2 separate regions of the Homo sapiens genome follow, and region 2 is linked to region 1. Evidence: fine-mapped expression QTL. A gene starts in region 1. The other region holds a variant in brackets. All regions are shown on one strand. Distances are from middle to middle.

Evidence for each region.
Region 2: its variant is fine-mapped to the expression of KBTBD2 in whole blood (INTERVAL, PIP above 0.99).

The regions. Positions count from the first base shown.
Region 1 is chr7:32,890,278-32,893,190 of GRCh38, reverse strand. It overlaps KBTBD2 (kelch repeat and BTB domain containing 2), which reads left to right and starts at 1,431. Exons shown (of 4, transcript NM_015483.3): 1 at 1,431-1,655. RefSeq lists enhancers at 882-941, 647-1,350 and a silencer at 1,122-2,071.
Region 2 is chr7:32,867,156-32,870,068 of GRCh38, reverse strand. KBTBD2 (kelch repeat and BTB domain containing 2) reads left to right here. Exons shown (of 4, transcript NM_015483.3): 4 at 1-1,897. The coding sequence ends at 724. Among named protein-coding and RNA genes, the nearest start is that of KBTBD2, 23 kb to the left of the region's middle. The variant G/C (reference allele first, on the strand shown) is at 1,546.

The DNA.
Region 1 (2,913 bases):
GACTAAGTACAGTGGTAGCATGCTGGAAACTCAATGAAGATTTGTTGAATGTAGTTTCCAGATTCTACAGTAAAACAATCCTTTATCAGTAGTTCCTGATAACACGCATCTTGGTGTGCATTCAGTTGATCTAGCCTAGTTTACAGGAAGAGGCTCCCTTCAGTAATGTACTGTATGGCCTTTCAGATTATAATTAGTCATCTATATTCTCTAGATTGGGCTTGTGCCAAGACTGTAAGTTAGGAAGGTAGGTGGAGTCTGTGTGGGCATTTCTGACAATTTTTTGATCCACGAATAGCTCCTAGCAAATTTACAGCCTGCCTGCCAGCAAGCTGTGCCAAGTTAACTAAAACAGTACGGGCCACAGCCATTAGCTGCTGCTACAAACGCTTCGCTTTGCGAAGCAACGCTGAAGGCGCTCTTTTGGAACTCGGGGGGTTGGGGGCGTGCAGCCGCCGCATTGCAGCACACAACGGAAGGCTTCAGACGCTGGAGCTGCCGTCCGCACCCAGATGTCTCTCTCTCCCTTTTCCCCTAACCTCCCCCAACTGCGGGCCCTTTTGGGTGCTGCTCTGACTTCTTCCTTGGCCTTGGGAAAAGCCGAAGCGGCTCTGGAGAGAGGAGGGCATGGTTTGGAGAAGAGGTGCTGCGGCAACAAAGCGACCCGCCCAACGCCTCCTCAACTTTCTCCTGCCCCCGGTCTGGTATTGTTTAGTCCTACTCATTCCCACTTTCCGAGCCAGCCTGCAAAAATCTGTATTTCAGGGGAAATTCCAAGGGATAAAACACCTCCTTCAGCATAACAATTGGTGTTTTGCTCTCTAGATTTCCTAGCAATGAACTTGTCGGGCCTCTCCATCCGCCCGTCTAGGCCCAAGGCCTCGGCCGCCGCGGCTACTCGGAGTGCCCCTCTGCCGCGCACGCGCCCCTCAAGGGCTCTCCCATGACCTTTCCCGGGAACCCCCTTCAATTACGCTTCCCGTCACCTCGCGCCGCCCCCGCCCTTCCTGCTCTTTCCGTTTCCTCTTTCGCGCCTGCGCGGCCCCAATTGTTTTGGCTTTCCGGTGGCATCCGGCAGAGGAAAAGGGCGGGGGCAGCTAGAGTAAGGGAGGGGCGGGGGACGGTCGCGAGGACCCGGGAAACTGCAAAACTGCCGCTGGTGCCGACAGGCGCGCGCGCGCGCGAGGCGGGAGGGCGGCGTGGCGAGGGCGGGCGCGGCAGGCTGGCCAGCGGTCCATTGCGCGCGCGTTCCCGGGCCGCGGGCGGGGGCGAGAGCGCGCGGCGGGGGCGGGGGCGGGGGCGGCGGGGGCGGCGGGCCCGGCGTCTCGCGGCCCCGGACTGACAAGGCGGCGCGGGCGGGCGGGCGGCGCGGCTCCCGGGGGAGGAGTCTGGCGGTGGTCGGGCCCTGAGGAGCGTGCGGCGGCGCCCGCAGAGGACGCTGCTTTCCGCGCTGGACGGACCAAGCGAGGGAGGGTGCGAGGGGAAACCGGAAGGAAGAGGCGGCGGCGCCAGCCTTCCTCGGCCGGAGGCGGAGGCGAGACCCCAGGCGAGGCCGCGGCGGGAGGGCCACGCCCCCGCCGCCGCGCCGGAGGGGCCCAGTGTGGACGGGGCCACCGGCTGGAGCGGATCCCACACCTCCGGACCGAGGGACGCGGGTGAGCAGGCGACAGTAGCGCCGGGCAGGCTGGGAGCCCGCGGCGACCTGTGGAGGGGCCGGGGAGGAGGGCTGTGGCGGGAGGGGGCTCGGCCCTTTGTGGCTCGGCGGGTGGGAGGCGGCGGCCGCGGCATCTTTCAAACCCGAGACGCTTCCGCCGCGGGCGGGGGAGGGGCGCGGGCGGCCGGCGCCGCCCTCCGCACCCCGCGGCGGCCCCAGGGCGGCGGAGCTCCGGGCAGGTCCGCGGGGAAGGGGCGGCCCGGTACGCCGCTAGCTGGGCGTTTCCGGCCCCGGCACCGGGCGCCTCGGCGCCCGCGGGGCTCCCGGGCGGCGCCTTGGCCTCGGCTCGCGCCCGCCCTTACCGAAGTAAAGCTGTTTCCCTTAAAGACTCGCGACGTGTTCGCGACATGGTGGGCCGAAGGAGGACACCCCCTTCCTTCTGTATTCCCCCCGCGTACATCTGAACTAACCAAGAGAGGTCTAGACGAACAGAGCTCCTGTTATGGTCTATATCGACTTAAAAAAGAAAGCAGAAACTGCCCTTTGAAACGGAAAATTGTGTACGTGTTTACTTTGTGAAATCTTTAACTTCCTTGAATTCGACCACCTCCTTCTCCCTACGGATTGAACAACCGGGGAATAGAAAAATCGCTTAGTTTGGTGTGGGGCGGTTATTTTGAGTTAACATCTTTTTTTCCCTTGGGCTTAGCTATCTAAGAACTCTACCTGCCTCAAAAGGTAGAGGAGCGTCCATCCCACGGGCTACCACGGTGACCCCTTCCAGTGAAAATAGGAAAAGAATTCAAAATACAAAATGAACTTTAAAAGGGTGTGTGTGTGAACTATCTTCTGTGTCAATTAGCCTTATGAAGACGTAGGCAACAGGACTGGTCACGTGTTGTTTATACTTGAATCTGTACGTCGGGCTCACAGCATTTAGGCATTGAGAAACGAAACCCTATCAACGCTGTGCACTGACCAAAATGATATTTTCTTTTATCGAGGCAACTAATTAACAGGGATCTTCCCCCTCTTCCCTCTGAGTTGTACATTTTTGCCGAATTTGAGTAGTATGGGTCTTAGATCTCTTGTAATTGTGAATGACTTAGTTTGGTTAACCTTTGATAAGGACTTTTTTCCCCGACTTTTTTTTCTGATCTAAAGTAAATTGAAAAGCCAGTCGGTTGTTTTCTAATCTCGATGATGTGGAATTTTGCTATTCTTTCCATCTGGCTGATAACTAATGTTAAGCTTACTTC
Region 2 (2,913 bases), 23 kb after region 1:
TGCAATTGGAGGAGATAGCGTAGGTGGAGAACTTAATCGGAGGACCGTAGAAAGATACGACACTGAGAAAGATGAGTGGACGATGGTAAGCCCTTTACCTTGTGCTTGGCAATGGAGTGCAGCAGTTGTGGTTCATGACTGCATTTATGTGATGACACTGAACCTCATGTACTGTTATTTTCCAAGGTCTGACTCATGGGTAGAAATGGCCATGAGACAGACTAGTAGGTCCTTTGCTTCAGCTGCAGCTTTTGGTGATAAAATTTTCTATATTGGAGGGTTGCATATTGCTACCAATTCCGGCATAAGACTCCCCTCTGGCACTGTAGATGGGTCTTCAGTAACTGTGGAAATTTATGATGTGAATAAAAATGAGTGGAAAATGGCAGCCAACATCCCTGCTAAGAGGTACTCTGACCCCTGTGTTAGAGCTGTTGTGATCTCAAATTCTCTATGTGTGTTTATGCGAGAAACCCACTTAAATGAGCGAGCTAAATACGTCACCTACCAATATGACCTGGAACTTGACCGGTGGTCTCTGCGGCAGCATATATCTGAACGTGTACTGTGGGACTTGGGGAGAGATTTTCGATGCACTGTGGGGAAACTCTATCCATCCTGCCTTGAAGAGTCTCCATGGAAACCACCAACTTATCTTTTTTCAACGGATGGGACAGAAGAGTTTGAACTGGATGGAGAAATGGTTGCACTACCACCTGTATAGTGGGGAAGTTCAGGGAGTGCACGCCTGAGTTATGTGCTTTGTCATTTTCTTTGCTAAACAAAAGAGGCTATGAAAGAACTAAATATGAGTACATAAAATTCTATCTTTGATAAATTTTATTTTTATGCCCTACTTAATATTTGCATCAGTATAATATATATCAGTGAGTCTTACAGAAAGATATGCTTCCATAATATGAAATAGATTATTCAATAATTGAGAAACTTTATGTGTAATCATGAGAGTATAAGAATCTGGATTATCTAACATTGTTAGCCCTGTGTATGTACAGTTCAAAAAGTTCATTTATAAAAGTAGTTTCCTGTTCCTAGTGTGATGTATCACAAATTGTGCTGAGGTTATTTTAGTATGTGTGTTTCATTCCCGTGCTTCTGTTCTGAAGTCCTGGAATACAGTTTTCAGTGTAATTAATTCAACTGCACTTAACACTAATGTCCGTGTTGGTATAGAAATGTCTAAATCCTATACTCTAGTTGAGGAAGATCTTCCATAATTTTATGGTATTACACAGGGAAAGCTATGACTGCAGGATCAGTCTAACTATACTATTAGGTGCATGTATTCTCTTTTCACTAACTTATACTTGTCTATCTAGAATACAGGTCTTCCAGTCAGCTGGTCATTTACCAGGTGTGGACTTAAGTTGCTAGGCTTGCAGTAAGAATTGCCAGCCACTCATTGTGCGGGTCTGCGTGGAGCTTTAATCAGAAAAAGCCTCCACTTTCTGTATTATGTTAACATTGGCTCATGCATATAACTATCTGCTGCTGATGTAGTTCTCCATCTTCAAGATTTAGAGT[G/C]GGTTAACCAGGTCATTACATCTTAATTTAATAACAAGCATTACTGTAGAGTGATTGTGTATAGATCTGTTAGCTGTCAGGGTGTGTTTTTTTTAACCTGTTGTGTGCGTGTGGGGGTTAGGATTAGTAAGGTGAACTGTTCAGGAATTCTCTGCACTAGCTGTGCAGAAGAGCAGATAACTAGCGCTGCTCTGGCATTAATCCCAGGAACCACTAGCAGTAGTGGGGCGCCGCCAATCTAACATGAGCACAGGTGCTTCATGACAAACATTACTAGCATGTTCAACTGCACCATGTTCTGGCACTGTATTTTGAATGACATTAATTTATTAAATAAATTGTATATATTCAATATCTATTTTTCTTTTGTTATGGGAATGGTCTGCTTTTTAAATTTTGATTTTGCTAGGTCAAACTTAGCTAGTAATAGGTGGTTTCTTCCAAATTTTGTTTGATGAAGATTGAGAGATATGCATAGGCTTTCCTTAGGCTAGTGTCTTTCTACCCTGCTGGCATGTTAGAATCATCTGATTCTGATCATCATCTTTAGAAGCTTGAGATGATGCCTGAACCTCACCCCAAACAAAATGGTTTCTTTTTAGAGCACATCATTGATCATGTTTATAGACTTGAACTGCCCCTCCACTGCCTACTGAATGAAGTCCAGATTCCTTACCACATTTAAGGCTCTCTCTAATTTGGCTTTAAATTACCTTTACAGCCCTACCTTGCATTGTTTTTCCATAAGCCTTATCTTCTGATTAGGCTTTCGCTATGCTTTATGCTTTTTTATGCTATTCATGCTACTCAGAATGGTTTCTTCATCCCAACTTTACTTGCAGCTGTCTCAAGAGCTATTTAAGGCAGTTTTTAAAGAATGTTTCCTGATAACCATGTCTTACCATGAGGTGAAAAGTATCCTTTCTCACATTTTTACTACCTTGTACCTAGATCTTATTAATTGTACTGATCATTCTATTGACTATTACTAGTTTTGGCCAGGTGGGGTGGCTTATGCCTGTAATCCCAGCACTTTGGGAGGCCTAAGTGGGAGGAATGTTTGAGCCCAGGAATTTGAGACCAGCCTGGGCAACATAGGGAGACCCTGTCTCTACCAAAAAAATAAATAAATAAAATTAGCTAGTCATGGTGGTGTGTAGTCCCAGCTACTAGGGAGGCTGCAGTGGGAGAATCACTTAACCCTGGAAGGTCAAGGCTGGAGTGAGCCTTGACTGTGCCACTGCACTCCATCCTGGGTGACAAGACTGAGACCCCATCTCTAAAAGATAAGATAAATGAATATTATTAGTCTTCATGCTTTTCTACAAAATGATCAGTGTTGATTGTCTTATTTACGGCTGCATCCCC